Regions from separate parts of the Homo sapiens genome. Here region 2 is linked to region 1. A link means that fine-mapping ties the variant in region 1 to the plasma level of a protein whose gene starts in the linked region. Region 1 holds a variant in brackets. A gene starts in the other region. All regions are shown on their reverse strands.

Region 1 (5,374 bases):
GCTGTGTGTATGTGTGGATTGGAATCTCAGGGTGGTTCTAATTTGCATTTCCTGGATCAATAATGAGATTCAGCACCTTTTCCTATATACATTGTTCACTTGAATCCAAGCATAAGAGAATCTTAAGGACAAAGAATTATAGACCCTTACAATCTTAGGTGCAAAGAATTCTAGGCTGGGCACGGTGGCTCATGCCTGTAATCCTAGCACTTTGGGAGGCTGAAACAGGAGGATCACTTGAGCCCAGGAATTTGGGACCAGCCTGGACAACAAAGTGAGACCCTGCCTGTGGTCCCAGCTACTTAAGAGACCGAGGTGGGAGAATTTCTTGAGCTTGGGAGATTGAGGCTGTAGTGAGCTATGATCATGCCGCTGCACTCCAGCCTGGGCAACACAGTGAGACCCTGTCTCAAAAAGAAGAAGGAGAAGGAGAAGGGGAAGGGGAAGGGGAAGGGGAAGGGGAAGGGGAAGGAGAAGGAGAAGAGGAGGAGGAGGAGGGAGGAAGAGGAAGAGGAAGGAGAAGGAGAGGAATTCTAGAATCCTAGATTTTTAGGAACAAGGGATTCCAGAACCCTATGCCTCAGTTTCCCCATTTGGATAATGGGGATAATAGAAGTCTGTAACTCATCATGTAGGTAATGTTATATGTGTACACCTGGCATGAAACTTGGCACACAGTGAGTGCTCAGTAAATGTGATTTCTGTCATGGCAAAAATTTTATACATTTTGTTCTCCCTTGTATCATTAGGACCTAGGGCAGAATAGAGGCCCAGTAAGTATTTACTGAATGAATGAATCTTAGTATCAAAGGATCAAGTAAACCTGCAGTTACAGAACTTTAGGAGCAAAAATGGGTAGAATTTAAGAAATTAGGCCAGGCACGGTGGCTCACACCTATAATCCCAGCACTTTGGGAGGCCAAGGTGGGCGGATCACCTGAGGTCAGGAGTTCAAGACCAGCCTGACCAACATGGAGAAATTCCATCTCTACTAAAAATACAAAATTAGCTCGGCATGGTGGTGCATGGCTGTCATCCCAGCTACTCGGGAGGCTGAGGCAGGAGAATCACTTGAACCCAGGAGGAGGAAGTTGCATTGGGCTGAGATTGCACCATTGCACTCCAGCCTTGGCAACAAGAGCAAAACTCTGTCTCAAAAATAAATAAATAAATAAATAAAATAAAAATAAAAATTAAGAATGATCGAAGTCTTGGATAAAGAAAAATGTGGTATGTATACACCGTGGAATACTATGCAGCCATGAAAAGGAATAAGATCATGTGCTTTGCAGGGATACAGATGGAGCTGGAAGCCATTTATCCTCAGCAAACTAACGCAGGAACAGAAAACCAAACACCACGTGTTCTCACTTATAAGTGGGAGCTGAATGATGAGAACACATGGACACAGGAAGGGGAACAACACAAACTGAGGCCTGTTGGGATGGGGAGGGGTGCAGAGGGAGGGAGAGCATTAGGAAGAATAGCTAATGCATGACGGGCTTCATACCTAGGCGATGGGTTGATGGGTGCAGCAAACCACCGTGGCACATTTTTACTATGTAACAAACCTGCACATCCTGCACATATACCCTGGAACTTGAAAAAAAAAGAAGAATGATCAGAGTCTTAAGAACTAAAGAGAGATAAAAATGCATCCTTGGCAAACTTAAGATTCACTATTTATTTATTTATTTATTTATTTATTTATTTATTTTTATTGAGATGGAGTCTCACTCTGTCACCCAGGCTGGAGTGTAGTGGTGCGGTCTTGGCTTATGCCAACCTCTGTCCCCCAGGTGCAAGCGATTCTCATGCCTCAGCCTCCCGAGTAGCTGGGACTACAGGTGCACGCTAGCTAATTTTTTTGTGTTTTTTAATAGAGACAGGGTTTCGTCCTGTTGGCCAGGCTGTTCTTGAACTCCTGACCTCAGGTGATCCGTCCACCTTAGCCTCCCAAAGTGCTGGGATTACAGGCATGAGTCACTACGCACGGCCAGATTCACTATCTTAAATTTATATTTATTATTAATTATTATTATTATTTTTAGATATGGGGTCTTGCTCTGTCACCCAGGCTGGAGTGCAGTGATGTGATCATAGCTCACTACAGCTCCAAACAGGAGGCTCAAGTGATCCACCTGCCTGGGCCTCCCAAAGCACTGGGACTACAGGCAGGCACCACCTTGCCTGCCCTTTATCTTAAACTTTTAGAAACAAGGAAGCTGCCCGGCCAATGCCGTCTAGCTCAGAGTGAGAACAGAGAAGAGAAAGGAGCGGGCGCCCAGGTCTTCTCACCCTCCCTGTGTCCCCTCCCCTGGGTGGCTCTTATAGCCACTTCTCATTTCCATGGCCTTTCCTCAGCCTCCCCACCTCCTCCTGCCTGGTCCTCCCTTTGCACAGGATGGAACCTGAGGAAGCTGCTCCTTCCTGAGCCCCATCATCGGGAGAAAGTCCAGGATCCTGCCGCAGAGGACCCACACCAGCTACCGTCTTCCTTCAGC[CTT/T]ATCCCCCGGCTCTGTCCCACCCACACCCCTTTCTGCCTCTTAGCCAAGGCCTCTCTCGCACCATCCTCCTTCCATACATACCCCTTTCACTTCAACGTCAAAACTATACCTCTTTCTTGGAGATCCAAACCAGGTCACACAGTAAGTGCTCAATAAACACATCAGGCCCCAGCTCTGACAGCCTTTCCTCCAGGAAGCCCTCCCTGATTTCTCTTTCTAGTCTGAGTCAGGAGCCCCCTCTGGGCCCCCCTGACCATGCCAGCCCCAACATTCTGGGATGCGACTGTCTGGGGACAGGCTAGTCTTCCCCATGTGTGAGCCTGTGAGGGCAGGCCTGGGGCTGTCACTGCTGTGTGTATCCAGCACTGCCCCAAACAGCAGAGACCTCTGGGCACGGGGCTGTCAAGCCCATCTGACTGTTCACAAGGCTTGCTTACAATGCTCTTAATTGTGTGCCCTCGATGCCATTTCTCTGGGATCCCAGGGATGGCTCCACTCACTTTTCCAGGTCAGCAAAGGAGTGCCCGATGGTTCAAAGGGATGCAGGTGAGGCCCTGACAGTGCTCAGCCCACCACCTGCCCTCCGGAGACATAGGAGCCATTGTCAGCTGCTCAGGTCTCTGTCTCCAGTTCCCCTCTAAAAGCTCATAAAGCCCCTCTGTTTCACTTGTAAACGTTTCTTGCATGAATCCACAGTGAGACCTGAGACCTCAGCACCTGCCCTCAGTGATCATTCCCTCCTTCCCAACTCCCTCATCATTTACCCAGGCACAGAGAAGTTAGGAGCTTTGTCTAAGGTCACACAGCCAATAAGGGGGAAGAGGAGCTAAATGTGTGTGTGTGTGTGTGTGTGTGTGTGTGTTTTGAGACGGGGTCTCACTCTGTCACCCAGGCTGGAGTGCAGTGGTGCATTCACGACTCACTGCAGCCTCCACCTCCCGGGGCTCAGGTGATCCTTCCCCCTCAGCCTCCTGAGTAGCTGGGACTACAAGCATGTGCCACCATGCCCTGCTAGTTTTTGCATTTTTTTTTTTTTTTTTTTGTAGAGACAGGGTCTTGCCAGGAAGCCCAGACTGGTCTTGAACTCCCGGGCTCCAGTGATCCTCCTGCCTCAGCCTCCCAAAGTGCTGGGATTACAGTCCTGAACCACTGCACCTGGCCAGGAGTTTAGATTTTAAAAATCAACTGTACTGAGGTATAATTTACATGCAATAAAATACACCTGTTTCAAATGTGTGTGTTTGGCGGGGCATGGTGGCGCATGCCTATAATCCCAGCTACTTGGGAGGCTGAGGCACTTGAATCCAGGAGGTGGAGATTGCAGTGAGCTGTGATCTTGCCACCGAACTCCTGCCTGGGTGACAGAGCGAGACTCTCTCAAAAATAAATCAATTAAATTAATTAAAATTAAATTAAAGAAGGAGTATGCTAGATGAGTTCTGATAAACATGTACAATCATTTAATCATATCCTGATCAAGATATAGAACATTTCTAGTGCCCGGAAAAGGTCCACTGTGCCCTCCTTGCAGTCATCTCCTCCCCTTGTCCCCAGACACTGGCAGCCACTAATCTGCTTTTTCTTTTCTTTTTTTTTTTTTGAGATGGAGTCTCACTCTATTGCCAGGCTGGAGTGCAGTGGCACGGTCTCGGCTCACTGCAACCTCTGCCTCCCTGGTTCAAGTGATTCTCCTGCCTCAGCCTCCCTAGTAGCTGGGACTACAGGCGCCCGCCACCATGCCTGGCTAATTTTTGAATTTTTAGTAGAGACGGGGTTTCACCATGTTGGCCAGGATGGTCTCGATCTATTGACCTTGTGATCTGCCCGCCTCGGCCTCCCAAAGTGCTGGGATTACAGGCGTGAGCCACCGCGCCCGGCCTCTTTTCTTTTCTTTTTCTTTTTCTTTTTTCTTTTTTTTTTTTTTGAGACATTTTGCTCTGTCACCCAGGCTGGAGTGCAGGGGCGCGATCTCTGCTTGCTGCAGCCTCTGCCTCCCGGGTTCAAGTGATTCTTCTGCCTCAGCCTCCCCAGTAGCTGGGATTACAGGCAGGCACCACCATGTCCGGCTAATTTTTGTATTTTTAGTAGAGACGAGGTTTCACCATGTTGGCCAGGCTGGTCTTGAATTCCTGACCTCAAGTGATCCACCCACCTCAGCCTCCCAAAGTTCTGGGATTACAGGCATGAGCCACCACACTCAGCTATATCTGCCTTTTTTTTTTTTTTTTGAGATGGGGTCTTGCTCTGTCACCCAGGCTGGAGTGCAGTGGCACGATCTCGGCTTACTGCAACCTCCACCTCCCGGGTTCCAGCGATTCTCCTGCCTTGGCCTCCTGAGTAGCTGGTATTACAGGTGCCTGCCACCACGCCCGGCTAATTTTTGTATTTTTAGTAGAGGTGGGGTTTCACCATGTTGCCCAGGCTGGTCTCAAACTCCTGACCTCAAGTGATCCACCTGCCTCAGCCTCCCAAAGTACTGGGATTACAGGTGTGAGCCGCCACACCCAGCTGCTTTTTATCCCTATAAATTTGCTTTTCCAGGATGACATGTAAATGGGATTACAGAGTATGTAGTCCTTAAAAAAAAATCATTGACAAATTTACCTACAGTAAAATTCACTCTTTTCATCATACATTTCTTTTCTTTCTTTCTTTCTTTCTTTTTTTTTTTGAGGAATGTTCTCACTCTGTCACCCAGGCTGGAGTGCAGCGGTGCGATCACCACTCACTGCAGCCTCAACCTTTCAGGCTCTAGCGATCGTCCCGCCTCAGCTTCCTCATTAGCTGGAACTACAAGTGCACGCCACCAAGCCCAGCTAATTTTTGTATTTATGGTAGAGATGGGGTCTCACTATGTTGCCCAGGCT
Region 2 (5,374 bases), not on the chromosome of region 1:
GTTATTTCCTTATCCTCCAGGGAAGGACTGTGTCTTATTCATCCTTGAAATGGTACCTGACATACAGCTGGCCCTCACCTCAGTAAACACTATTCAAATTTAAAAAAAAACGTTGAGCGCATGGCAAGGCACAGTGGCTCACACCTGTAACCCTGGCACTTTGAGAGGCTGAGGCAGGAAGATCGCTTGAGCCTAGGAGTTCAAGACCAACCTGGGCAACATAGTGAGACACTGTCTCTACAAAAAATAAAAATAAAAAATTTAGCCAGGTGTGGTGATATGTGTCTGTGATCCTAGCTACTTGGGAAGCTGAGGTAGGAGGATTGCTTGAGCCTGGGAGGTAAAGGCGGCAGTGAGCTGTGATCATGCCACTGCACTTCAGCCTGAGTGACAGAGTGAGACCATATCTCCAGAAAAGAAAAAAAAAAGAAAGAAAGAAAAGAAAAGAAAAAGAAATTGAGCACATTATTACAATTTAATATCTTGATTGAAGGGAAGAGGTGAGACATCAGTTTCATTCATATTAAAGAGGAAATAGGTACTGTTATGTCAATGGGAAATGAGAGGAGGAATTAAATGTAGGAAACAGAATAACAAAGAACCAACTCATAAAAAACTAAAACAACCCATATCAGACACACCTTATAATCTGTATGTCTGTGTTGACTTATCCTCTTGGAATGTGAGGAATATTCTTTATTAATTTTACTTACTGGGTTGCCAGATATAATACAGGAAGCCCAGTTAAATCTGAATTTCAGATAAACAACAAATAACTTTTTAGTATATGTCCCAAATATTGCATGGGGCATATTTATACTAAAAAACTATTTATTGTTTATCTGACATTCAAATTTCACCAGATGTTCTGCATTTTTATTTGCTAAATCTGGGCACTCTTCACTGGGCATCTTCTCAGGGCACTAACCTGCCAAATGCCAACTGCTGTGGGGCTGCTCAGAGAATATGACCTAATGACAATGGGAGATGACATGTTGCTGGCAATGAGAGAAGTGAATAAAATGTTGCATACTTGTTTTCAGGAGCTGTTCTCAAAGCTTACCACCTTTTTAGTGTGGGATTAGGTCTTCAACTTCAACTTTGTCTTCACCTTTGTCTTAAGGTCAAAAGAAGACGTTAGAGATGTCTTTGGTAGGGCATAATGTATCCTTTTAGATTGATATTTGTGGGCCATTTGTTTTACAGGGGGTTAGTCCAGGAAGTACAAGACAATGTCATTAGGCGGATAGAGTTCCATTTAAATTAAAAATAAAATCTATTGTTAGGTTTAAATGAGTCACTGCTTCATTAAGCTATCAATATTAGATAACACATATTGAATGAATGTTTCCCATAGGCCAAGCTCTGTCCCAAGCATTTCACATGTATTTGCATTTCGTGCTCACAAACTGCCTCTGACTGACTGATTTTGATTTTCTTGATTTTATGGATGAGGAGACCGAGAAGCAGAGATGATGAACTTCCCCAAGGTCACACCACTCATAAGTGGGAGAAACAAGCTAAAATTCAGGCCATCTTACTGCAGAATACTCAAAATCAAAATAAGCAAAATTTCATCTCCAGTTCTGGCACCTCACCAAAAACCAAAACACGATTTAAAAATATAAAATTTTAATAACACCACACATAAATTTCAAACTACTTTCCCTAAGTTTCTAGCTGAAGTTTTAAATGAGTGTGTTTTTAATTTATTAGAAAGTGGATTGAAGAGAAAACATTGGAAGATGAAGGAAGGCGTTTCAGTTAAACCCCAAATAACTCTGTGTTACACTGAGCTATGAAACGGCTCCTTCTAGCTCCATTTCTCCTCAGACCTAAGTGCTATTCCTGATTGTCCTTCATTGTCATTTCCAGGGAGAAATGACACCAGCACAGTGGCAGGCCTTCCAATCTGGAGCACGGTCCACACAACTTCCGAATTGGTGTTCAGTGTAAAGTGTATCGGAGTGCGGAAAATGCGCAGGGCATTGCCAACTATAGATGCTCGGAGTAATTCAGTGTATTCAGAGAACACGGTGAAACAAGGAAAACCGGCCTGACTGGGGGGTGAATTCAGCAGGGAGTAAATCTGATCGGCATCAGGTCTGCGGAAAGGAGCTGGTGAGCACGACACCACCCAGGCATTGCCTGGCTCTCTCCGCGGCGGGCTAAGTTAACCGCGGGTCCAGGTGCGGGCCATGGTCTTGGGGAGGGTGCTGGGTGCGCTCGAGCAGGCTAGCGTCGGGAGCCGCCGCTGCTAGTGAGAGGCCGGGGCCACACACGCTCCTCCCCGGTACCTCCTCCAGCATCACCAGGGGAGGAGAGGGTCGGGGCCACAAGGCCGCGCTAGGCGGACCCAGGACACAGCCCGCGCGCAGCCCACCCGCCCGCCGCCTGCCAGAGCTGCTCGGCCCGCAGCCAGGGGGACAGCGGCTGGTCGGAGGCTCGCAGTGCTGTCGGCGAGAAGCAGTCGGGTTTGGAGCGCTTGGGTCGCGTTGGTGCGCGGTGGAACGCGCCCAGGGACCCCAGTTCCCGCGAGCAGCTCCGCGCCGCGCCTGAGTGAGGAGGGGCCCCGGGGGCGAGGCGGGAGTGGGAGGAAGGGCACGGTCGCCGCGCTGGAGGTCGGGACCCCGGAGCGGCGACCGGCCGGGGTGGGCTCGCTGAGTCGCACCCGCTCTGCTGGCCGGTCCTGGGCTCACAGTCCCTGCAGCCCTCGGAAACAGCGCTAGGATCCTTGCGGGGAGAGGGAGAGGATGACGGTATTAGACACCAGTTCTTCCAAACCTTTTCCCGAAAGGAAGCAACCCTAAGAGCTCAGAGCTGGGGGGAGAATCAGGACAGGCAGGGAACACATGGAGTTTTCTTTTCTTTTTTTTCTCTCTCTCTCTCTTTCTTTCGTTCCTTCTTTCTTTCTTTTGAGGCGGAGTCTCATTTTGTCGCCAGGCTGGAGTGCAGAGGCGCGATCTCGACTCACTGCAACCTCTGTCTCCCGGGTTCAAGCAATTCTCCTGCCTCAACTTCCCGAGTAGCTGGGACTGCTGGCGTGCCGTATCACGCTCGGCTAATTTTTTTGAATTTTTAGTAGAGACGGGGTTTCGCTGTGTTCGCCACAATGGTCTCGATCTCCTGACCTCGTGATTCGCCCGCCTCCGCCTCCCAAAATGCTGGGATTACAGGCATGAGCCACCGCGCCCGCCCCGGAGTTTTCTTATCTGTAGATCTCCTACAGGGACAATCTCTCTCTCCGTCTCTCTCTCTCTCTCTCTCTCTCTCTCTCTCTCTCTCTCTCTCTCTCTCTCTCTCTCTCTCTCTCTCTCTCTCTCACACACACACACACCACTACACACCTCTCACTCTGCCTCCTCTCTCTCTCTCCCTCCGCTCTCTCTCTCACACACCCTTCTCCCTCTCTCCCTCTCTCTCACTCTCCCTTTGAGGAGTATTGCGTTTTTGGAGCCCAGTTATGCGTGGCTGCTGTAAGAACAAAACAAAGCACTCTTTGTCCTACCTGGAGCATCCCCCTGCCGGCCAGATAAGATCACAGCTGTGTCACCAAGTCAAGGGAGAGGCTCATTTTTAAAAAATTAAGCAAAATCAGAAAACAGAGAACACTGTCTTCCTCATCATCTCCTGGAGCTTGTAAGAGAAATTTCTGTCACCAAAAACGAAAAGTTCGGGCTTTTATTCATGCCTGTGGTTCTTGGGATTACTGCAGTGGTGATGAGGAAGGAGAGGTGCGTATGGCTCATAAATGGCAGCTTGCCACCTTTAAAAGGCACACGGATTCAGATTTGGGATGTGTTAACAAATCAGGCTTGCACAAATTACTTTTGATCCAAATGAGAATGCTGAGCTGGGAGACTGGTATATGGGTAGGAGCTGGAAAATGTATCCCCTGAGGTGTTGGCAATCCCAAGAGGCTCAGCACGAAACCTTGAGCTTACATTGAATTCAGAGATCTGAGCATTAAGCACTGGCCTGATCAAGAAGAAGCAGATGGCCTTCTGGTCACGAGGCACTGGTGAGCCTCCATCACCCAGGCAGATTCCCTCACAGAGGAATTCTGCTGGCCCTGCAGAAAGTGGTGAGACAGCGCACCACCTTGGCATTTTCCAGCAGGCCTACTTCAGCTCCTTGCACTTGGGCACTGAAAGTGCTTTCCCCTCCCCAGATATTTGTGCACCAGAAGCTGCTGCTGGCCATGTGGTGATGTCTCAATGTCTTTCTTCATTGAACTGGGCCCTTCATACCCAAGGCTGGCACCATAGTCTGTGACTGCCTACTGTACAGCCAGCAAGACTGAAGGAGTTGCAGCATTAGGAGTGTTGTGAATCTGGTTCAGCCACTCATTTTACAGTTGAGAAATCCCTTCTGAGGTGTGGAAGGGCTTGCTTAGCACCGCAGGACTTTTCCCTCAGACAGAACCTGGGACAGCTGGGTCCTCATTTCCTCTCCATTGTGTCTCTGTCCCCTTTGCACTTTTGTTGTGAGGAACATACATGGGCCTAAACACATTCCCTCACTCTCACCTTTGCACATGAATATGACTTACCACACTCTTTGAAGCTCTGTCAGCACAGAACATTAAGAAAAGTGCTAACTGGGTACCTGAGCAGCTGGAGTGGGAGCCCCTGGGAAAGTCAGTTTAGGAGTCCCCTTTATCTTCCTTTTCCTGATACCCAAGAAGATGGCTATTTCCTGGAAAGGAAGGTGGATATTGGATTATTTACACTCTGATTCCTCTTAAGCCTAATTTTTTTTCAAGATTCGTGATAATAAGCCTGACTGACGTCTCAAGATGTTGAGAAATTTCCATAAAATAAAAGCATTGAAGAGAAAGTACTGAGTGAAGGGAAATTGAAGAGAAACATTCAGTTCTAAAATTGTATTGTTTCAGAATATGATTCTGGGTTCTTACTGACTTTCTTCATGACGCCAGCCACCTGTTAGACACATTATGTGCCCTCACTGTCATTTTGCTCAATTTTATGGGCGTGACTCAACACTAACAGAAACAGGCTAATACATACAAACATGTAGGTTTTTGGTTTTTAAAGAAACTTAGCAGTTGAGGAGAAATAAAAAGTCTATTGTAAGAGTAGATGCTCATTGAATTAAGTGGGCTAGTTGATTCCTAGTAGAACTTGTATTCATTCATTCATTCACTTCAAAAAATATTTATTGATCAGATCCTAAGTGCCAGGTACTGAGTACAGCACAGTTAGTAAGATAGATATGCTCTCTGCTCTCACAGTGCTCACATTCTAGAATTGAGGGATGAACAGGGTGAATTCATATAATGAGAAGAAAAGCAAGCAGATTGCTGCAGTATAGTGGTGTGTGTGTGTGTGTGTGTGTGTGTGTGTGTGTATGT

Direction of the effects. Alleles are on the strand shown, and positions count from the first base shown. The strength of an association depends on the size of the effect and on how common the allele is.
As copies of T replace CTT in region 1, the plasma level of the protein whose gene starts at base 2,364 in region 2 goes down (strong association).

Evidence for each region. PIP is the posterior inclusion probability: the model's chance that the variant is causal. Protein levels are from antibody-based Olink assays in UK Biobank. Linkage for the fine-mapping came from a reference panel and not from the study's own genotypes, which makes the PIPs less certain.
Region 2: PLA2G7 starts here. The variant in region 1 is fine-mapped to the plasma level of the PLA2G7 protein (UK Biobank, PIP above 0.99).

The regions. Positions count from the first base shown.
Region 1 is chr19:44,729,726-44,735,099 of GRCh38, reverse strand. No RefSeq gene overlaps it. Among named protein-coding and RNA genes, the nearest start is that of CEACAM16-AS1, 7.2 kb to the right of the region's middle. The variant CTT/T (reference allele first, on the strand shown) is at 2,505.
Region 2 is chr6:46,732,365-46,737,738 of GRCh38, reverse strand. PLA2G7 (phospholipase A2 group VII) reads left to right here and starts at 2,364. Exons shown (of 12, transcript NM_005084.4): 1 at 2,364-2,559.